Linked DNA regions of Homo sapiens. The protein of the gene in region 3 purifies or fractionates together with the protein of the main gene of each other region. This does not show direct contact. Each region holds a gene or a part of one and is shown on either strand. Other genes may lie near its edges.

The links.
Region 1: the proteins of TBC1D22B (region 3) and KLK7 purify together in Homo sapiens (affinity purification with mass spectrometry; 2 studies listed by BioGRID and IntAct, with this or other methods). This does not show direct contact.
Region 2: the proteins of TBC1D22B (region 3) and CD207 purify together in Homo sapiens (affinity purification with mass spectrometry; 2 studies listed by BioGRID and IntAct, with this or other methods). This does not show direct contact.
Region 4: the proteins of TBC1D22B (region 3) and SERPINB13 purify together in Homo sapiens (affinity purification with mass spectrometry; 2 studies listed by BioGRID and IntAct, with this or other methods). This does not show direct contact.

What each region holds. Positions count from the first base shown.
Region 1 is NC_000019.10:50,975,937-50,980,927, reverse strand, and holds the end of KLK7 (kallikrein-7 isoform 1 preproprotein), read left to right. Parts: intron 1-440; coding exon 441-688; intron 689-1,003; coding exon 1,004-1,140; intron 1,141-3,236; coding exon 3,237-3,392; 3' UTR 3,393-4,460; downstream 4,461-4,991. UniProt on the Homo sapiens protein: May catalyze the degradation of intercellular cohesive structures in the cornified layer of the skin in the continuous shedding of cells from the skin surface. Specific for amino acid residues with aromatic side chains in the P1 position.
Region 2 is NC_000002.12:70,829,711-70,832,857, reverse strand, and holds the end of CD207 (C-type lectin domain family 4 member K), read left to right. Parts: intron 1-1,038; coding exon 1,039-1,157; intron 1,158-1,657; coding exon 1,658-1,808; 3' UTR 1,809-1,936; coding exon of another isoform or gene 1,937-2,049; 3' UTR 2,050-2,647; downstream 2,648-3,147. UniProt on the Homo sapiens protein: Calcium-dependent lectin displaying mannose-binding specificity. Induces the formation of Birbeck granules (BGs); is a potent regulator of membrane superimposition and zippering.
Region 3 is NC_000006.12:37,252,892-37,260,783, forward strand, and holds the start of TBC1D22B (TBC1 domain family member 22B), read left to right. Parts: upstream 1-4,880; 5' UTR 4,881-5,026; coding exon 5,027-5,082; exon of another isoform or gene 5,083-5,253; intron 5,254-7,892. UniProt on the Homo sapiens protein: May act as a GTPase-activating protein for Rab family protein(s).
Region 4 is NC_000018.10:63,590,333-63,597,373, reverse strand, and holds part of SERPINB13 (serpin B13), read right to left. Parts: intron 5,027-7,041; coding exon 4,898-5,026; intron 4,521-4,897; coding exon 4,403-4,520; intron 3,349-4,402; exon of another isoform or gene 3,200-3,348; coding exon of another isoform or gene 3,136-3,199; intron 3,020-3,135; coding exon 2,877-3,019; intron 2,346-2,876; coding exon 2,190-2,345; intron 416-2,189; coding exon 11-415; 3' UTR 1-10. UniProt on the Homo sapiens protein: May play a role in the proliferation or differentiation of keratinocytes.

The DNA.
Region 1 (4,991 bases), on a different chromosome or scaffold from region 3:
GTTCCCCTCTCTCTGGGTCTCTGTCCCTCTCTCTCTGGGTCTCTGTCCCTCTCTCTCTGGATCTCTGTCCCCCTCTCTCTCTGGGTCTCTGTTCCCCTCTCTCTGGGTCTCTGTCCCCTCTCCTCTCTCTGTGTCTCTCTCCCCCCTCCTCTCTCTGTGTCTCTGTCCCCCCTCCTATCTCTGTGTCTCTCTCCCCCCTCCTCTCTCTGGGTCTCTGTCCCCCCCTCTCTGGGTCTCTGTCTCCCTCTCTCTGGGGCTCTGTCCCCCTCTCTCTCTGGATCTCTGTTCCCCTCTCTCTGGGTCTCTGTCTCCCCTCCTCTCTCTGTGTCTCTGTCCCCCCTCCTCTCTCTGGGTCTCTGTCCCCACCCCGTCCCCCAGGTCTTTGCACACCCTCTCTGTCACAGTGTCTCTTCTGAATCTGTGAATGTCACTCCTCGCAGTGAGTACACCGTGCACCTGGGCAGTGATACGCTGGGCGACAGGAGAGCTCAGAGGATCAAGGCCTCGAAGTCATTCCGCCACCCCGGCTACTCCACACAGACCCATGTTAATGACCTCATGCTCGTGAAGCTCAATAGCCAGGCCAGGCTGTCATCCATGGTGAAGAAAGTCAGGCTGCCCTCCCGCTGCGAACCCCCTGGAACCACCTGTACTGTCTCCGGCTGGGGCACTACCACGAGCCCAGATGGTAGGTGGCCTCAGTGACCCAGGAGTGCAGGCCCCAGCCCTCCTCCCTCAGACCCAGGAGTCCAGGCCCCCAGCCCCTCCTCCCTCAGACCCAGGAGTCCAGGCCTCAGCCCCTCCTCCCTCAGACCCAGGAGTCCAGGCCCCCAGCCCCTCCTCCCTCAGACCCGGGAGTCCAGACCCCAGCCCCTCCTCCCTCAGACCCAGCAGTCCTGGGCCCCAGACCCTCCTCCCTCGGAACCAGGAGCCTGAACAACAGCCCTTCTGGTCCTCGCCCCCATCCTCTCTGACTGACAGCTCTCCCTGCTCCTCCCTGCAGTGACCTTTCCCTCTGACCTCATGTGCGTGGATGTCAAGCTCATCTCCCCCCAGGACTGCACGAAGGTTTACAAGGACTTACTGGAAAATTCCATGCTGTGCGCTGGCATCCCCGACTCCAAGAAAAACGCCTGCAATGTGAGACCCTCCCCCCCAATTCCTCCCCAGTCCTGGGTACCCTGTCTGCATGCCCCAGGGACAGAGCTTGACCCGAGTGACTGGGTACCAAGCCCGGCCTTGCCCTCCCCCCAGGCCTGGCCTCCTCAGCTTTTTCCACCTCATTCTCTGCCTAGGTCAGGGGTGGGAGTTTACTTAGGGGCCAATGTGGCCCTGGGGATGAGACAGAGAGTTTAATAGGGGTGAGAAAGTGGGGGTGGGACCAGGGAAGGAGACTGAGGTGCTGGCCTCAGGCCCAAACCTTAAGGGGGCACCAAAAACCTCAGTGATTGAGATAAATCATAATGCAATATTTAAAAATAAAAATAAAAACTCATGCAGAAGTCCATGATGGACAAAATGTCACATTTTAAATAAAGAGCAGGTGGATCTTACTGAATTTTCCCTTGCCGTAAGTACTAGCGTGGCTCAGCACAGCGCTGTACTGGCACTGTCTTCATTTAAAATGTGGATACCATGCCCATCATGCAGTTTTATGTATTACATTTGATTTCGTTAAGTACTGCATTGAAGTATTGTGTATTGCAGTTACTGAGATTTTGTGCCTGAAGCTGATGACTCACTCACCTGACCCTGGCCCTGGTCCCGGGGAAAACACTCTTTCTCTCCACCTCCTCTCTGTTCCCTCTTTCTGGCCTTTTGTCATCCCCTCTGTTTCTGAACAGTCTTCCCACATCTCTCTTTGTGACATAATTTCATTTCATTCTTTTCCTCTTTGTTTTTTCTCTGTGTTGAGCTAGCTTGCTCTCCCTCCCTTGTTCTCTCTCCATGCCCTCCTCTCTGCTCTCTGTCTTCTCCCTCTTTCTCTTGCTTCTCTCTCTCTCCTCCCCTCCCTCTCTCCTCTCCCTGCCCCCCTGCTCTCTCTTTTTTCCTCTCTCTCTGTCTCCTCTCTGGCCCTCTCCTCTTTCTCTCTCTCCCCCACTTCTCTGTCTCTCTTCATCTCTCTCCCTCATCTCTCCTTGCCCCCTCCTTTTTACTGTCTCTCTCTTTCTCTTTCTTCTATCTCTCTCCTCTCCCTGCCGCTCCCCCATCTCTGTCTTTCTTTCTCTCTCTTTATTCTCCTCCTCTCTTCCAGTCTCTCTCTCCTCTCCCCACCCCCACCCCATCTCTCTCCCCACACCTTCCCCCCCTTTCTCTTTGTCTCTCTCTTCTCCCTCTTTCTTCTCCACCCCCATCTCTCTCTCTCTTCTCTTCCCACACCCTCCCCATCTCCCTCATCTCTTTGTCTGTCTCTCTTCTCCCTCCTTCTTTTCCACCCCCATCTCTCTGTCTCTCTCTCTCCCCATACCCTTTCCCTCTTCCTCATCTCTCTTTGTCTCTCTCTCCTTTCCCTCTTTCTTCTCCACCTCCAACTCTCTCTGTCTCTCCACACCCATCCTCCTTGCTCACATCTGCACCTTCAGCTGTCAGGGGATGTGGGATGGTGAGTGTTAGGGATAGAGGAGATGGGAGAGAGATGACTGTCCTAGAGAATAGGGTGTTCCCCTTCTCCCCTGGTGAGGGCCAGTTTCATGAATGTGCAAGCTCTGCACGGACACAGAGCCCCACACTCAGAAGGGTCTCAAACTTAGTCTAATGCATTCCTGCTGTTGTCTTGAAATTCTCAATAATTTTTGAACAAAGGGCCCTGCATTTTCGTTTTGCACCAAGTCCTGTAAATTATGTAACTGGTCTTCACCCTGGTCTCCGAGACCATCGTGTCCCCCTTTCCTGCGCCACAGGGCACGCATCCACCCCTTGGAGATGATGTTCCTTCTCCCACTAGCTTGGAGCAGGGTCCTTAACATTGGAAAATAAAGAGTGCTCTGATCCTGGAAGCCCCACCCCTTCTCTGCAATTGGTCTCATTGGCCAAGGGTCAAACCAGTGTCTTCAAAGGACCTAGTGTGTCCCTAGCACTAGCTCTCCCATTAGTCCCCAGAGACAATGAGTCTCTTCTCATTGGCTATGGTGGAAGTCCATAATCTGCAAGACAAAGACCGATAACTGAGGAATGTATGAGAATGAGTTGGGCTTTGATCTGAAGCCAAAGTTAATCTCCGGCTCTATTCCCTCTAGGGTGACTCAGGGGGACCGTTGGTGTGCAGAGGTACCCTGCAAGGTCTGGTGTCCTGGGGAACTTTCCCTTGCGGCCAACCCAATGACCCAGGAGTCTACACTCAAGTGTGCAAGTTCACCAAGTGGATAAATGACACCATGAAAAAGCATCGCTAACGCCACACTGAGTTAATTAACTGTGTGCTTCCAACAGAAAATGCACAGGAGTGAGGACGCCGATGACCTATGAAGTCAAATTTGACTTTACCTTTCCTCAAAGATATATTTAAACCAACCTCATGCCCTGTTGATAAACCAATCAAATTGGTAAAGACCTAAAACCAAAACAAATAAAGAAACACAAAACCCTCAGTGCTGGAGAAGAGTCAGTGAGACCAGCACTCTCAAACACTGGAACTGGACGTTCGTACAGTCTTTACGGAAGACACTTGGTCAACGTACACCGAGACCCTTATTCACCACCTTTGACCCAGTAACTCTAATCTTAGGAAGAACCTACTGAAACAAAAAAAATCCAAAATGTAGAACAAGACTTGAATTTACCATGATATTATTTATCACAGAAATGAAGTGAAACCATCAAACATGTTCCAAAAGTACCAGATGGCTTAAATAATAGTCTGGCTTGGCACAACGATGTTTTTTTTCTTTGAGACAGAGTCTCTGTTGCTTGGGCTGCAATGCAGTGATGCAATCTTGGCTCACTGCAACCTCCGCCTCCTGGGTTCAAGTGATTCTCGTGCTTCAGCCTCCCAAGTACCTGGGACTACAGGTGTGCACCACCACACCAGGCTAATTTTTTGTGTATTTTTACTAGAGACAGGGTTTCACCATGTTGGCCAGCATGGTCTTGAACGCCTGACCTCAGATGATCCACCCACCTTGGCCTCCCAAAGTGCTGGGATTACAGGCATGAGCCACCACGGCCAGCCCACAATGATATTACAAACCTATTAAAAATGATACTTAGACAGAATTGTCAGTATTATTCAAGAACATTTAGGCTATAGGATGTTAAATGACAAAAGGAAGGACAAAAATATATATGTATGTGACCCTACCCATAAAAAATGAAATATTCACAGAATCAGATCTGAAAACACATGTCCCAGACTGCATACTGGGGTCGTCATGAGGTGTCTCCTTCCTTCTGTGTACTTTTCCTTGAATGTGCACTTTTATAACATGAAAAATAAAGGTGGGGAAAAAAGTCTGAAGATCTAAGATTGGAGAGAGGTGACCTTTCAGGAAGGGAGACTAGAAAGAAATATGTGCCTGGTTTTGAGCCCTGGTCCTGCCGGCCCTGTTCCAGGGCATATTTCCATTTCCCAGATCTCAGTTTTTCCTGTCTGTAAAATGGGAGAGAGAGGAAAGGATGGAGAGAGGAAGAAGGAAGGGAGGAGGGAGGAGAGAACAGGCCAACTTCATCAGCGTGGGAAGGGGTGTGAAAGTGTTTCTGAGCATCTCACGAGTGACAAGTGAGGAGGGAGGCTGGCGGTTTTCAGAGGGATTGGGATGACAGTAGACAGGACACAGGGGTCCCACGGGGGTCTGCCAGAAGTAAGCAAACAGTGCCGGAGGAAGATGGTGGCACCTGCTCCCCAAGAAGGGAGGGAAAGGAACCTCGGGAAGCGGGTAGGATGAGGGAGGAGTCCTCTGTGACTCAGAGCCTGGCCACAGCCCCAGCCATCTAACATCAAAGATCCTCTGTGTGGTCACACCTCAGACGCTGCTGACCGAGGAGCCACTCCAGCC
Region 2 (3,147 bases), on a different chromosome or scaffold from region 3:
CACTGGGCCAGGGAGGATGGGCAAGATTATACTGCGTGAACAAAAATCCCCAAATATTGATGACCTAATGAAGAAGGATTGGTTCTCAGTAGCATGTCGAATAAGGGCCGGCAAGGGGGCTGTGCTCACTGTGGCTACTCAAGGACCCAGGCCCAAGGAGTCTTCATCTTAATATGTCTCCACAATTGCTGGGGCAGGAAAGGGGAACTTGACATATTGTGCAAAGCTTCTGCCCAGATTTAACATACCTCATTTTTGCTTACATTTCACTAGCTTAAGTTATGTTAATTAAGTTAAGTAAGTTATGCAGTACTCCTGGATTGGGAGGATCCTGGATTCCAGTACTCCTGGAACAGGGCAGAGAGGATCTACTTTCCATGTGCCCAGAAAAAAAGAAATATTTGTGAACAGCCTTAATGATTCCACATGACTCAAGAAGTCTCCTGCCTGGTGAGGCAGAAATTGGGCAGGCCCTTTTCATCTGGGAGGTGGGATAGCAGAGCAGGTCAGAGCCTGGGCTCTGGCGTAGTTCTAGAGCCTGAACCTTGCCATCTAACTAGTCCTAGCAGCTTGGGTGGAATACCCAACTTCACTGGGCAAACTTCACTGGCCCTCACTTGATGAAACATGCATGGTGATGGCACCTGCCTCAGAGGAAAGGAGAGAATGCATATGGACGACTCAGCACAGTGCCGTATGTGGATTCAGGGCTCATTTAATTCAGGTATTATCATATGAACCATTCTCTTGCGGTCCGTGCTCTGGAGTTCAGCTGAGGCCTTCCTGTGCTTCAGCACCTGCTTCCTGAGTGGCAGAAAGGCTTGAGTCCTGAGCTTGTTAGCTGCAGAGCAGGGACACATCATAATCTGGAAGATGAAATCTGGGCTCTGGGCAAGGGCAGGAAGAAGCTTGAGAGGCCAGTTTGTGCAGCGCATCTGTGGGTCAGGGCTGTCACTGAGCGCAGGTGAAGAACACCCAGAGACAGATGATCAAGCTCCAAGTGTGGCCGCACCTCTGCTTATCCTGTCTTTCCTACAGGAGTTTCTGTATAAAACAGCGGGGGGACTCATCTACTGGATTGGCCTGACTAAAGCAGGGATGGAAGGGGACTGGTCCTGGGTGGATGACACGCCATTCAACAAGGTCCAAAGTGTGAGGTAAGCCCCTGGAGCCCTCCGTGCCAGCCTGACTTTCCCCGGCCATGGCCAGGGCATGAAGGGAGTGGGGGCGATGTTCCCCATGAGACAGGGTTTCTGATTCTTCCCTGTCTTAGAGTGACAGGAACATTGCAACCAAGATCGAGCACAACCCTGTCACCAACTGGCTGTGGACCTGAGCCCTCCACGCCCTCTGGGGTTTGGCAACAAGGCCTTCTACCTGGCCAGCTTCAGGGATCTTGTCATGAGTCTAGGTCTTCACAGTGTGGGTTTGTGTAGGGACTTGAAAGTGGTGGGTTGGTTTGGCCTGGACTTGGGGCATGTGAAAGCTTAGAGGTCGAAGTCTCACCAGTCCCCTTCCTCTGAGGCTTGGGTGCAGACATTTGCTATGCCATTCCCTAGGACAAAAGCTTGGGTTGAGTTAACTCATTTCTTCACTGGAAATAAGTTCTTTTTGATTTTCCACTTTGTAAATCCATCTTTTTCCCCGCTCTTGGTAGGTTCTGGATTCCAGGTGAGCCCAACAATGCTGGGAACAATGAACACTGTGGCAATATAAAGGCTCCCTCACTTCAGGCCTGGAATGATGCCCCATGTGACAAAACGTTTCTTTTCATTTGTAAGCGACCCTATGTCCCATCAGAACCGTGACAGGACAGGCTCCCAAGCTCACTCTTTGAGCTCCAACGCTTGTTAAACATGAGGAAATGCCTCTTTCTTCCCCAGACTCCAGGATGACTTTGCACGTTAATTTTTCTTGCTTCAAAATTGTCCCACAGTGGCATTCTGGAGTCCGTCTGTCTTGGCTGGAAATTCTCTGACGTCTTGGAGGCAGCTGGAATGGAAAGGAGAATTCAGGTTAAAGTGGGAGGGGTGGGTAGAGAGGATTTAGAAGTTCCAATTGCCCTGCTAAGGAGGATCAAGACCCGTAATCCGGCATAACACCCTGGGGTTTTCCACTCTTTCAGAGAAACCTCAGCTTCATCACATCAAAGTTACTCCAGAGCAACCAAGCAATTCTCCTGATATTGTCATCCAGGGCTTTTCTTGGCCAAACCCCCTAGAATTTCCATGTCTCTGCTTAGCTGTGCTGGCAGCTAGCAGCTGGCTGTGTTTGCAGTGCAAATAGCTCTGTTCTTGGAAATCCTGCTCATGGTATGTCCCCAGTGGTTTCTTCATCCACATCATCTAAAGCCTGAACCCGTTCTTCTCTGGTTCAAGTCAGTGGCTGACACGGACTTGTATCTCCTTCAGAGCTCGGCTGGCACCCAGCCTCCCTTCTCCTTCCACTCCCTTAGTACACTGGAGTGCCGAGCCCTGCCTTCCACCCAGCGTCCATCCAGCCCCTGTCCTCACCTCTCCGGCACCTCCTCCTCCTTCTGCATTTCCTATCTTCCTGTGTCTTGTGCATGGGAAGCAGCCTTCAGTGCCTTCATGAATTCACCTTCCAGCTTCCTCAGAATAAAATGCTGCCTGGGTCAAGGACTCACTCCAAGTGCACTTTTTCATTTCTGGTTGTCCAGGTGAATATGTGGGAAAGGCAGTCTCCTCTGGTGGACATGAAGTTCTAGGGTATCCTCAGGAAACATCTGGGGAGTCAAAAATAACAAGGACTGGGGAAGTTCCAGTCCTGGAAATGCCACAAAATGTGACCAGTACTTATCTCTAGTTTTTATTAAAGTAGAGCAAGGTCTCCAATGTCACGATCTTGGTGATCTTTCTTCTTGTTTACTGCACAATCTTCTAGTCTATAGCTCAATTCCCAAGAACAAGTCTCAGCAGGTTCCCCACTCTTCACAGAGACCCAGTTCCACAGGCATCAGTTCCAAATCCCAAGTCCAGTGGCTGAAGCTGGAATCCAGGCAGCAGCCACCACAGAGAGGAGAGGAGGGTGGAGTGAGCACAGGTCTTCATTAAGGTCCTCAGGAAAAGATGCTTCCTTAAATAACTGTAACCAGCAGTGTGTTGTTCTGGGTGCAAATGGGTCACA
Region 3 (7,892 bases):
AGCCTCCCAAAGTGCTGGGATTGCAGGTGTGAGCTACTGTTACCCAGGTGATGTATATTTTATAATATTAAAAAACGGTAACATTAAAGAAAAGTTCCAGAAGTACCAAGATGTATATAATTCTACCCTCTACCAAAATTTGCTTAATTTTTCCACGTTTTCTTCCAATCTTTGACAAAACCCATATATTCTTATTGAAATCATGCAAAGATATTTTATATTCTACCTTTTCCCTGCTGTACATTTCATACACCTTTTTGATGTGCTATGTAGCATTCAAATTTGCCCTCTTTAATGGTATAACATGGTTCAAGTTTATAAACTGCACACCATAATTTACATAACTTCTTCTCATGTTTAAATCTTCATATTCTTTTCATTTTCCCCTGTTTATTATTGGTTGCAAGGCAAAGAATATCTTTGTACACAGAGATTTCCCCCTTTCTTCTTGCCAGGTATGGTGACTTCTTTTCTTAGAATAAATTCTTAGGAATGAAATACCTAGTTTTCCCTTCACCCCCCAAATTCTAAAAACTTTCTCTTCCTCTCTTTATTCCTATAACCTCTTACTTTTTCAGTCTTTTTGCTTATCCCCTTGCCTTCTCTAATATAACTGATCTCTGCCATTGGCTCTAACAGTGGTTGTTTAGATACTATAAAGCTCTCTTGCTGTTAAATCCCAGCTTGACCTCACTATCTCTTAGGTGGCCCAACATTGCACAGTGCATTGTGAGGGCTGCTTCTTGCTCTCATTTCTTAACCCTTCCCCTCATCACAGTGTCTACTTCCTTCCTTCCACTCCACTCCTTCACTAAGGTTAAAGTCTGCCAGGGATCTCTCTGTAAGTCCAAAGGCTTTTTTCTCTATTTTTATCTTCCCATTGGAGCTCCTGTCCTGAAGTGACTTTCCTCCTATAGTTCTTCAGGCCTTTCTCTTTCCTTTTCTCTCCCTACTCAAGGATTATCTCTTTCATAAAACTTTCTCTAAGGGTTGGGATATGCCTACCTCTTTTGAGTCCACAGTCAACCCAGGCATATCTCATCCCTTAACTATACTTTGCCACATTTTAAGTTGTTTAACCCTCTTTTGAATGAAGATGAAGTTGAGGGGGGGAAAGTAAAAACTTGCAGAAGCCTCTACTTACAGTTTCAAAATAAACTCTTGAGATAAAGTAAACAATCACAGGCCATACTGTATTAGTAACAGAAGATCTATAAAGTGAGGTCCATGGATCAGCAGCATCAGTGTCACCTGGGAGCTTGTTAGAAATTCTGAGTTGTAGGCTCCACCTCAGACCTCCTGAATCAGAATCTAGGTTTTTAATATAATCCTCAGTGATTCACATGTGCAATATAGTATAGGAAGCACTGGTCTAGTGGACCAGTGAATGTCTGCCAAGAAGGACCTCCATCAGAAGGCCTCTAAGGACCCCTTGGGAACCTCAAACCAATGATTTACACCTCTTGCTGGGCAAGGGTGGCTGCCATACCTATCAGCCCTTTGATGACAGCTACCAACTGATCTCCTGACTAGGTGGGTGGCCTCCCTCCCTCATCATTCCAGGTACAGGCACATTCCTTTGAAGCTGCAAAAGAGTTTGAAGAATACAATCTTTCTCAGAGAAGACTGTTCTTCAACCAAGGATGTAGGCAAGGATGTAGAGTCATTGGTAAAGTGGACACATCCTACTAGGGGTTAGGAAACACTGTTTCTATCATCTTTCCTAACATAAAAATATGTGAACAACATAGAATCGAAAGACAAGAAATATTTATATTCTTCCTTCTTTCACTCAGTAAATATTTACTAAGCACTCACTATGTTCCAAACACTATTCTAGGTGCTGGGGATACAGCAGGGAACAAAACAAAGTCCCAGTCTTAGTGGGGTTCACGATCTCTAGGGCAGTAGTCCCCAACCTTTTTGGCACCTGGGACCAGTTTCAGGGAAGACAACTTTTCCATGAAAATTTTGGGGGAGGGGGGTTAAAGGATGAAACAGTTCCACTTCAAATCACAAGGCATTAGATTCTCATAAGGAGTGCGCAATGCAACCTAGATCCCTTGTATGAGCAGTTCACAATAGGGTTCAAACTCCTGTGAGAATCTGCTGCTGCTGCTGATCTGACAGGAGGCGGAGCTCTGGCAGTAATGATTGCATGCCCACCCGCCACTCACCTCCTGCTGTGCGGCCTGGTTCCTAACAGGCAACAGACAGGGGGCCTTTACTCTAGGGGATGGAGATGGACAACAAACAAGTACATAATATGGCCTGTAGTGATAGCGCTTTAAAGAAAAATAGAGCCAGGCAATAAGACCAATGGGCATGGCTGCAGCAGATTAAGCAAGAAAGAAAGCATAATGAGATGAGACTGGAGAGGTGAGTGGAGCCAAGTCATGTAGGGTCTTTAAGGAGCTTGGATTTTATGCCAAGTACAATGGGGGCCATTGCAAAGTTTTCAGCAGAGGAGTGACATGATATCGTCTACATTTTAACAGGGTGTCTCTGGGCAGGGTGCGATGGCTCCCACCTGTAATACTAGCTCTCTGGGAGGCCAAAGGTGGTGGATTGCTTGAGTTTCAGGAGTATGGGACCAGCCTGGGCAACATGGTGAAACTTCATCTCTACAAAAATACAAAAAATTAGCTGGCCATGGTGGTATGTGCCTGTTAGTCCCAGCTACTCAGGAGGCTGATGTGGGAGGATTGCTTGAGCCCAGGAGATGGAGGTTGTAGTGTGCTGAGATCATGTCACTGGACTCCAGCTTGGGTGACAGGGCAAGACCTGGTCTCAAAAAAAAAAAAAAAGGTCTCTCTGGTTGGTATATGGGGAATGGACTCTAAGGGGCTAAGAGTGGAAGCAGGGAGCCGAATAGCAGGCTGCTGTAAGCAGGTGTGTGGTTGGTGAAGATTAGGGTGACCAAGTGGTAGTGGTGAAAAAGGTTCCAACAATCTCAATTTCCCTATTTAAAAAGTCATCACAAGGTAACTGATGTGAATTTTTAAAAAATCTTGGAGGGGAAACTGATATAGAAAACAAACTGTAGAAATAACAGGGCTTTTCTGGGTTGAGCACTGTTAACTACACCCCCTGGGAATCAGTGTCATTTAACATTTCATAGAAGATTAAGAAAAAGGAGTATTTTGAGATATGTCTAGATACACAAATCATACTTTGCTTTCCACATAGTAAAATGTCAAATCAATAGGGAGCAGCTTCTGGAACATCTCTAAAGCCATGTGCATAAGCTGGAAAGTGGCAGGTATCTTGTCACATGGATGAGTGTATGGCAGCTCACATAGGGAAAGACAATTCAGAGGATACCTTTAAGACAATGAACTCTGAACTGCTGGTTGCCACCAAGGTAAGGAATCTAGAAGTTGTTTTAGATTACTCTTTCAAGACATCAACTCTTCTAAAGTCCAAACAGCCAGCAAAAGGTCTGGCTGTCCAGAATAAAGACAAAACATCAGCCTTAACAAAGCCTCAGTACATCCCTCTTTGGGCTTAGTGTGCAGTGCTGGTCACTGCATCCTAAGAAAAAGAAGCGCCAGAGAAAGGCAAGTAAAATAATTAAAAGAATAGAGGGGCTTTTTTTCTCTGGGTTAAATGCCCATAAAGAAGATAAGATGCTTTTATAGCATGAAAGACTCAGAGGAAGTAAAAATAGCCCTTGTCATCCAATCCTATAATTCTTAAATTAGGGGACAAAAGAAGCTTGAAAATGGGAGTAATGAAGAAACCGTCGTTGGAGGACATATAAAAGAAGGTCCTTCTTTGGCTGGGGCCAGGGGTCAGGTCTTTAAGTATTCTCCAATATGTGGAAGTACATGTGGTAGCTGTAAATGGAGGGTGGGGGTGGGGGTGGGGGACACGCAGCCCACCTCAACAGTCCTTCGAAGGGACAAAAACCACTCTGGACTGGTGCCCGCCTTCCCTCTTTCCCCAAATCACCACGGAATACAACCACAGAAACTCAAAACCAGCAAAAAACGCTGACAAGACATTCAAAGGATTCAAAATGCTAATACTAAATCTCATTGTCTGGGAAAATTAGATTGAAAATAAATTCAAGGGTGCAAGATTTATAATAGATTAACAAGGGAAATTAAGGATGTTGGTGGGGCCGGGAGGAGATACATCCTTAACTTTGTGATTCACACGATGGAGCAATACTGTGTCCTTCAAAGAAATGGTATTTGGTAATCTGAGTTGGACAGCTATCATAAACCATTTCCTATATACACTGTTAGCATAGTCAGAAAGTGAGAGTTATGGATTGACATAGGGATTAGATCATTTGAATTTTTAACCCACAGCACAAGTCCTTCAATCGTTTTCAATAAACAGAGGGAGAGGGAGACTCTGATGAACCGTTGCTCACGTGTTGAACAGTTAGCAATCCCGGGCTATCGGGTCCCTGCTGACCTTCCTTCAGAAAAACGAATGGACATGTAAACGGAATGAGGAAAGGAGGGTAATAACCAGAGTGTCATTGAATTGAGAGATGTTAAAAATGGGCCACAACCAACACATGGGCCCTTACTTTTAGGTGAAAGATTCCTATATATAAATACATAGTATGTTCTCTCTTGCCAAGAAATATTAGACTAAGGAACTTCATTCCTCACGAAGAAGATAATCCCCTCTTCCTTCCCATAGGTCCCTTACCTTACCTGCTTCTTCCCTCTCGCGGGTAGGAACTTTGAGCCCCGCCTCTCGGCTCGTCCAAGCTCCGCCTTCCCCGTCCACCTGTGTGCCCAGCCCCTGACGTTACCGGTCGGCTTCAGCGGCCTGCAGGATTCCGGCTCCCAATTGGTCGGCCCGTCCACGGCTTGCGCAGCTCACCAATGGCAGCGGTGCTGGGTGGAGGGGTGCCCACATCCAAGATGGCGTCCCCAGGAGCTGGGAGCGGGTGACCGGCGGCGGGGAAGCGGCCTGGGTTGGCCCTCAGATTGCGGGGTCTGGGGGCATCTCGCCGGGCAAACCCTTGGCCCGCCTACAAGGACTTCCCCCGGCCAGAGCAATGGCCGCTGAGAACAGCAAGCAGTTTTGGAAGAGGAGCGCTAAGCTGCCGGGGAGGTGAGCCCAGGACGCTGAGAGGGATAGGGGATTGGACCAAACCCTTCCAGATCCTAATCCCTGAATCCCGCGGGCCTGGGGCGCCACAGAGGCCAGAAGACTGGTTTGGGGAAGCTGGGACTGCCTGGTGGCGGCAGGGCAGCTGTCAGGCAGCGAAGCGAACAGCGAGCTTTGGGGACGGCTGGATGTGGGTGTAGACCGGGGTCTGGGGGCGGAGGTTTCAGGAGGGGTGACCTCAGCGGGAAGGTGGCCGAAGATTGGGCGTAAAGGGGAGTGGAGTTGGGTGAATAGTCAGTGTCGGCCCTGGTCTCGGAAGTTCCTCCCCAGAGCTGCTTCCCACTCTAATTAGGACTCCCTCTCAGGGGTCTCCACCACGCACAGGTGGTTGGTCGCTCGAGGATGGCCCCTTCCCTTGATCCCTGAGGTCGGCACTTACCCGAAGGATTCCGGTGGGAGTTTGGGGCCGCCTGCCGAGAGGGTTAGGCAGGAAAAGTGAGGACGATTCTCAACCCTGACCTTACTTTATCTTGAGTTGGCCCTTTCCCACTAGGAATTATTACAAGACGACCACAGAATCAGGGTTATTCCTTTGGCATTTTCTAAGGATTTGTCCAACCCCAAGTGACTTCTTCCTCCCCTGCATTGTAATGCACTTCTTGTGCAAATGCACTAAATTCGTTCATTCTTCAGTTGTTTAACTGGAGAGCAGACCCCCTAAGACTACCCCCACCCTCTTTTCGGTGTATGTTGAGACTTTTGGCAAATTATCCATCCATCAATCTACTGTTGGTTTACTGTTTCAGTTTATTTTGGGCAAAGTCCTGAGAAGTATAAGGAAGAGTGTGTATTTCAGTCGTAAATTTAAGATTTCTGCCAGCTACAGTCTACTTGGTGATGAAATTCATGTTTGGTTGTGTCCCCTGTGCTACCTTTTCTAATGGATTCAGGTTTTTTCCTTCTGGGATAATCTTTTGAACTCGTGACTTTTTTTTTTTAAGCGAGAGAGAGATGAGGGTCAGTAGTGGCTAGGTAAGAGCCTTAATTTTTTTTTTTTTTTTAAATGAAATAGAGACAAGGTCTGACTGTGTTGCCAGGGCTGGTCTCTGACTCCTGGCCTCAAGTGATCCTCTTGCCTTGGCCTCCCAAAGTGTTGGGATTACAGGCGTTAGCCACCATGCCCCACCAAGAGTCTTATTTTATTAAGGATTCTAGTAGACATATGGAGAATAGGGTGGAAATCAGCTTTTAGTAATACTTATTAAAGTAATAGAAAGGAATGCAAAGATAACTTCAGATTAAAGTGCTGTGGACTCAACAGTGTTAATATTACTGTTAAAGATGTTCTGTGTTTTTAGGTAAGCACACTTCCTGCCAACTGATTCCTTTTCCTTCCTGGTCTAGTGAGCTCTCTAGTTGTGCTAACTGCTATTCTCTGGGGTTTTCCGTAGTGAGATCATTAAATTTTGACATCCTAAGATTATAATCATAATCAATAGGAAGACTGTTGTATCAGGAAGCAGTGTAAGAGATGTGGGACGTGGCATGGGCTTCTGTGCCTTCTGACTGCTGGTTGCTATTAACAATCTTTTTTTCCTATATTTCCTGTATTTGGCTATAAGAACAGTCAACTTTTTTAAAGCACTACTTTTCTGAGATAGGAAGAGAAGTCTTTTCAGTTTCTTCAAGTTTCTGGATTCCTTTTTCATTTTGAAGAATATAGAGAAATAGAGAACTTTCGAGTTCAGAAAGACTTGGGTTACTATTTGGGCTCTGTTGTGTGTGTGACCAAGACAAATAATCTTTCTAGGCCTCAATTTCCTTACCTATGAAATGAGAAATAAAAATACTTTCCTCAGAGTTACTGTGGGGACTAAGTGAAATACCCTATTTGTAAAGAGCCTAGGACAGTGTTTATTTAGCACATTATAGTTGCTCAAAAAAACAGTAGTTATTAACATTGCTGTCATTATTACAGCAAGTAAACATTTAAAATAATGTTACTCAGATCCTTACCCCAGCTCATTGTCTTCGTTGTTTAAGGTATTCAAATATTGTCACAATTCATAATAGTTTTTAGTACCTTACTTGGTAAAGAGAAATACTGTTCAGCTGTGTGCTTTTAGCAGTGAAGCCCACAAGCCTCTGGTCATAGGAGAAAACTAAGGTTCTTTTAGATAGAAAGGTACTTTGGTTTAAAGAAAATGTTAGGGCATTTTCTCAAGAATAGAACTTTTGCATCTGTACTCTTTCGGTCTTAGAGAAGAAAAACTTTCTCCTGGGTGGGGAAATGACACAAATGACTCTACTGGATGCATGCAAACTTGGAAATGAAACTAGTTTACTCTTCTTTGCAAATTGAAAGGTGAAAAATAAAAGCGATGACAGGGTTCTTTCCATTTGTCTGATCATGATCCAACAATCTTAGTGACAACAAATAGAAATTTTATTAAATAAAAGAAGTTGCAAATGAATGAAACATTCTTTTTAAAAATAACAGCTTTATTGAGATATAATTCACATACCATAAAATTCACTCTTTTAAAGTGTACAATTCAGTGGTATTTAGTATATTCATTTATAGTATAGATGGTTTTGTGCAACCATCACCACTAATTTCAGAACATTTTCATCATCCTGAAAAGAAACTACATACCTGTTTACAGTCACTCCCCATCCACCCCACTCCAGACCCTGGTAACTACTAACCTACTTTCTGTTTCTGTGGATTTACCACTTTTGGACATTTTATATATATGGAGTAATATGATCTGAGGCCTTTTGTGAGTGGCTTCTTTTATTAAGCACAGTGA
Region 4 (7,041 bases), on a different chromosome or scaffold from region 3:
AACGATCATCTTAAGGAGAAGAAAATCTGCCGAAGAAGAGGATGCTGTTGGATTCATTGTGCCTGATGAAGAACAGGAAGGGATGATTGCAGTGAACATTTTCATGACCTGGGGCGGATGTGACAGTAAAGCCTATGCCGGTGGCAGCTGCAGCCTCGGTGCCTTCCTCAGTTACTGCCACAAAGGAACTGTGCAGGAACTTCTGGGCGTACAACCCGGAGCCTGACGACATTCCCGAGTAGTCGGCTTTGTGCTCACTGAAGGCATCGCCCATCCCCATGGCAGCCAGGACCGCCTCTAGATCGTAACCGTCCTCCACCTCAAACCGGGGCAAGTGCAGATTCACCTTTCTTTCTTCCATATGCCCTGGACTAGTCCACTCTACCAATTTCTCAGGACTTATTTTATCTATTATCTATTTTCAAAAAAAGAAGAGTAGAATGGCATGATTATCAATAAAAATCTAAAACAGTGTAACACTGATTTGTGTCAGTCAGAAGTTATTAATTTTAGTAATATTAAAAGTAGAAATTTTATTTCACTAGATTGTTGTCTTTATACTGCAGGCGGTTGTCTTATATCTCTCTGTTTAAATTATCTGTGTATATGTGGAAATCCAATAGCATTGAATACATTTTTAAAGATTAAAAATAAGTCATTTCTTATTTTATCAACCTAGTATATATTTCATTTTAACTATCTCTCCTAGTCTTTGAATGCATATATATTTACATAGTTGCAATCACAGTGAATGTCCATTTTATTTGATAAAAAGTAAACTTTTTCACAATATTGCATATCTCTCCTATCTTCAAACAGCTAGATAATATTCTTATGAAGTTGATAAATTTTTCCCAATATTTAGCTATTCATTCACTTTACAAACATTTAGTCTTTATCAGGCATTGTGATAGATTTGATAGTTACTAAGGATACAAAATAATAATTACGATGAATTTCAAACTGGGCATTCCAGTGTATTTAATACCGAAATAACTGATTTTACTCAGAAAGGCAACTTTTTTCTTCTGCATTATTTCTTTAGAGTAATTCCCACAACTGGGGTTTTTGAATCAGAAATACTCTTAAAGCTCTCAGACATATTGCTATTTTGCTGTCTCAAAATATTTTCCAACTTAAAATGCTACTAGCAATATTTCACAGAAGTAGCACAGCATCTGGTAGTATAAGACGATAGCAGTTATCATTTGAGTGCTTTCTATGTCCTAGACCCCTTCTAGGCTACGTTTCTCTAATCATTCCAACACTGCTGCACGTTAACCACCATGGAGCCCTCTTCAGAGATGGGAAAGTATTGAAGTTCAAGGAAGTTAAGAAGCTTCAAGGGTCAGAAAGCCACTAGAGGAACAGGGATTTGAAACAAAACTCTCCTCATTTTCAAAATACAGGACACTAGCCACAATTTATTTATTTATTTATTTATTTATTTATTTATTTATTTATTTATTTAATTTTGAGACAGAGTCTCGTTCTGTCACCCAGGCGGAGTGCAGTGGCGCTATCTCGGCTCACTGCAAGCTCCACCTCCCAGGTTCACGCCATTCTCCTGTCTCAGCCTCCCGAGTAGCTGGGACTACAGGCGCCCACAACCACGCCAGGCTAATTTTTTGTATTTTTAGTAGAGACGGGGTTTCACCGTGTTAGCCAGGATGGTCTCGATCTCCTGACCTCGTGATCCGCCCGCCTCAGCCTCCTAAAGTGCTGGGATTACAGGCGTGAGCCACCACGCCCGGCCTTCACATAATTTTTTTAACCACAGAATGGATGAGACTAAATCAATGGTGTAAGAGTGTAAGAAAGAAATTCAAAAGCTCCAAAAGCCTATTGAACAGTGTGCAGAACTGGTTGTATATATGCATATGTGATTTCTTTTTTCCAGGAAAGGGGTCCATAGATACCAACCATTTCTCAGAATGGTGGGTGATCGTTAGGACTCCCATATAATCTTAAATGTTCATTTTAGTTCATCCCAAACATTCTAGGATTAGTTGTTCTCAATAAACCTGACCCATACTATTTAATGCTCCCCAGTAGACATCCATCTGTAGCTGCTGGAGAGTGAGAAACACTTTCTATTTGACACTGCTGGCCACCAGCTCCTACTCAGAAGCCCTGAGACAAAAAGCCTTAGGAAATGAAAGAAAGAATAAGGAGGTGTAAGCGTTTACCTTCTCCAGGCCATCGATGTCGTTGGGCAGAAGCACAAACATGCTTAGGTCGTTGTTTTTATATGGAATCCCTAGAATTTTGGCCTGCAAGTCCTCCAGGAAAGTGAAGCTAAAGGAATGGCTCTGTGTCATCATCTGTACAGATTTACTTGTGCTCTGCAACAAATTAACAGAGCACACAATATCAAAGGACATAAGACCAAAGGCATTAAGGCAACCAAGTTAGTTCATCAAAATAATTAGCTCAATCTAAAATAAAACCCAATATCAGAGTCTCAGAATGAGCATCCACTATCTACCAGTATGCATTTGCTCAAATATGACTTTAGATTTTTTTGGGGGGGTGGGGGATGGAGTCTCACTCTGTCACCAGGCTGGAGTGCAGTGGCATGATCTTGGCTCACTGCAACCTCTGCCTCCCGGGTTCAAGCAATTGTCCTGCCTCAGCCTCCCAAGTAGCTGGGACTACCGGCGTGCACCACCACACCCAGCTAATTTTTATGTTTTTAGTAGATACGGGGTTTCACCATGTTGGCAAGGATAGTCTCGATCCCTTGATCTCATGATCCACCCACCTTGGCCTCCCAAAGTGCTGGGATTACAGGTGTCAGCCACCACGCCCAGCCATGACTTTAGACTTTACATTCCATGTGTAAGCACATCACGAAAATAAACTAAGGGCCATACCTTATTCATCCAAAATTTCTCTTCCTTAGTATTTTCTTTCTTAAACTCCCTGTCCCATTGCCCTTTAAAATAAACCATGTTCACCAGCACCAGCTTGGTAGAGCTACTAATAGAGCCATCTGGGAACAAGTCCTTGATTTTTTCTGCAAATGAAGAAACAGAAAAAGGTTGACCCATCTTCCAAATGACAAATAATATGTATGACAAATATGATGCAGATGGACTTGACTGATCATTAAAAACCCAGCCAGGTCAGCACCTGAGGGCCTTGCTGACAAAGGGTTTGCTGGCAGAATCGACGGGGAGGTTCTCATTTTGCCCATCGCCTATTTATCCCAGTGGATAAATTAAGGTTCATGGTTAAGAGTCCAGACTCTGGGGTCAGATGCCTCTGTTAGCATCCAGTTTGCCTCTTATCAGCTGAGGAATCTTGGGCAAGTTATTTAAACTCTCTGTGCCTCAGTTTCCACATCTGTAAAATAGGAATAAAATCTGCCTCATAGGGTTGTTGAAAGGAACAAATGATTTAACACATGTAAAGCTATTAGAATACCATCTCACACATAATAAGCACTCTGTGTTAGCTATTATGCTTACCATTCAATATAGTTACCACCTGAGATTAAGGGATTACTTATTATATTGGAGAAGGAGTTGATATTTTTGTCTCTGAGTTCACCCCATCCCACAATAAATTCTAAAAAATACTGTTCAACTTTTTGAAAGATCCTATTTTTTCTGTTTCTTTTATTTCCTTTCTTCAGACCAAGCATGAGGGGAAAAAAAAAACACATTCTGAATAACAAAGTTCTCTCTGATAATTGGTATAAAAATGGAATCTGAAACTCTAACACTAAAGTATCAGCTATTGCTCCCCAAGGTGAATTTCCACATTAACATTTCTCTGTGGATTTCCCATACCAGGGGATGAGAAAGGAATAATGGGATAAGAAACTTGTCAAATCCTCTGCTGTGGGGAGAGCTGTAGGTTGTCGTTACCCCTGCACTATGCTTAAGTGAAGATGAAGACTAGGTGGCCCCAGCTGTGGATGGGAACGACAAGTCTTGATGGGAGAGCTGCGTGTTTCTCATTTAACACAGACAGAGAAAAACTCAGGAAGAAAGGCTCTGATATAAAGGAAAGAATGTAAACCCAAGACAGGCATCATCCTATTTTCAGGACCCCCAAGATATTGTGATCCATGGCTATGTGTAAACAGTTCTCCAGCAAGCGTTTCCGTGCATTTGGCTTCATGCAGTCCCCTCACTGGCTCCCCTTGGCCGCTCCACATTTGCTGAAATTGCTCCACCATCTGCAGTGCCTTCCCTACCTCCTAGGCCTGGGCTTGCCCTTCCAACCCTGCAAAACCTATCTCAAGTCCCTTCCCAAAGCTTGTGCACTGCATGGCACCCCACGCAGTGACAAGTCCAGGGCTTCATTCACAGCAGGTTGTCAAGAAGTGTTTTTTGTTTGTTTGTTTCTTTGTTTTTGTTTTTTTGCAATGAATGACCCACCCATACTCTACCATTTGTTTTGCTTTCAACCCAGGAATTAATCTTCTTTCGACTTTCATCGGCTGCATTTACAAAATCAACAGGTTCCAGAGATGCATGATAATATTTTTCAACATAATCTAAGTATTTCTTTAGGAGAAACAAGGAAGGAATAAAAAGAGGTTAAAAACTCAATTTATCAATTGCCAACATCTCTAAATAAATTTATGTATACATTAGGATGACTAATACAGTAAGAGAAATTTTAAGGCCCTGGGCATCTCACATTGAGTTCCTGCTGCACATTTTTATGCAGCTATTCTGGGGATGAGGCAAAAATCAGGTTCAGATTGCCAGGACTAAAAAGGAACTCCCTGCAGTTCTGAATATCTGTAGATCAGGATGGAAAAGCACCACAGGGATGTGGCCAGAGCCAGGCAGCACGACTTCAGGACCCATAGTCCTACCAGGGCCATTTGGCCATTCCAGAATACCACTCACAGATATGGTAGGCATGGCAAACTTACTTGAAGGAAGAGGTATGTTTTTTCTCCAAACAGCCTGTTGGTTATGTTCAGTTCATAATCATTAGTGAGTTTGCTTATTTCAGTCAAAAACTTTTGGAATTGTTGATGTACTGCTTCTGTGTTCTCAATCTTGAAAATTAAAACAAAATCTCAACAGGTTATCTTGGCAAAAGCAAGCCCAGATTCTCCCCTAAGAGGATGCGGCTGCTGGGTCTCTCCCTCCGTTTGTCAGCCTCAAGGGTGATCCCTGTGTTTGATGTGGCCCCTGGATATCAGGTAGCCTTTACCCAAGTCATATGATAATGTCAGTTATGACCAATCTCAGCTCCAGAGAGAAGCCTTCTCTGCCAGCCCAACACCACAGATCTTGCATTTATAACTCAAGTTGTGGGCTTTTTTGGTCTCAAATAAAAGTGCTCACTAAATGTTCAATAAGCTTGTTTTTAGCTCCCCACAAGATTCTAAGCATCTAAGGAAAGTAAGTGATTTCTCCGGACGATTCTTATCTATTGAAGTTTGGAAATTTTTCCAGATAGTGAATAAGAAGAGTGACTCCTAATGGTATGAGTCACTACACATTGGGCTGAAGTGAGATTTATCCTTGTCTCCAGGGGAAAAAAAAAATTTTCTGAATATTTTATGTAGGACCCATCAGTTTTCTGATTGAAGTTTTCATATTCTATGTTACCTTAACGACATATCTAGAATGTCATTATTTCAACATATAAATACAATAAATATTAATTACATATTAATATATAAGATACATATTTCAGCAAAAATAATACATGAAAATTAATATTTTGTATTCCTTTCTCATACTAAGTTCTTAAAATATAATATGCATTTTATACCTATAGCACATCTGGATTCAAACTAGATGTATTGCAAGTGTTCAATAGCCACTTGAGTAGCTACTATACTGGATAGCTTGGGACTGGATAAACTCTCACCCAGGCAAATTAGGAGGCTGGCATTAAAAAGGCCATTTTTGCATTGTTTGTAGAAGGAAGGAAGGAAGGAAAGAAAAAAGGAAGGAAGGAGGGAAGGAAGGAAGGAAGGAAGGAAAGAAAAAAGGAAGGAAGGAGGGAAGGAAGGAAGGAAGGAAGGCCGGCCCCATCAACAAAATAAATGAGGAAATAGCTATAAAAATGAATCAAATAGAGCTATAAGTATCCCCTTAAAATAGATGAATCTTATAAACATGATGCTAAGCCAAAAATAATCAAGTTCCAAAGAAGAATGACAAAAATATATGGCATGTAATGAAATAATAAATACGTGGGAATAATGAACACCTAATCCACAATAGTGGGACTTCCTCTCTGAGGAGAGGATGGGGGCGTGCTCAAGGAAGGTGTTATACATCAGCCTAAGGGGCATCAGCTGATTTGGTAATAGTTTATTTTGTACACTTAAAGGAGGGGTTAAAGTGTGTTTATTGCATTTTTCCTTATACCTTTTGTACATATGTCTTGAGATTTTATCAGCATTTTTTAAAAGCAAGATTCAAAATACTCTGAATTTACATAATAATCAAACGGGTACATGCCAAGCCAGTCTCTGGGCAAACTATTAAATGAGGAGATTGGAGTAGATGACCTCTAAGATGTATTCCAGTGCTAATATCCTTTCAGTCAGTAATTCTATTCTCTTCATACCCCTGTGGCTCCCAGGAAAATTCTGGGGAATGGGCAAAACTGCTAGACAGCATGTATGTGTAAGCTTTGCCTTACACAAAGCTGAAATTCAGTTTCCACCCCAGTCATCTAGCCCTTCACATAGGAGTAGGGCAGCTATCCAAAAGAATGAGCTGTTTTCTAATTTGCACAAAGGTTCTACATGGGCTATCATGGCTGAGAAAGAATGTGCTCTGAAGACAACTGCACTTCTCAGTTGAGGGAACATTGCAGTGGCCATATGACCCAACTTGGTTGCGCAAACCCTGAAAGGAAGCCTGACCCTCCACAGGAGCAACTGAGCCACCCACACGACCTAGCCTTTTGGGGTTGTGAAATGAGCAGCTCCTATTGCTGGGTGATCTGAGCCATGGTTTTATGAGGGTCTGGAATTGCACTATGACTACTGTCAGAGCAGCTGTGCCCTTCCTGAGAGTGCTAACGTCTGATCCTAGCCCCGACCTA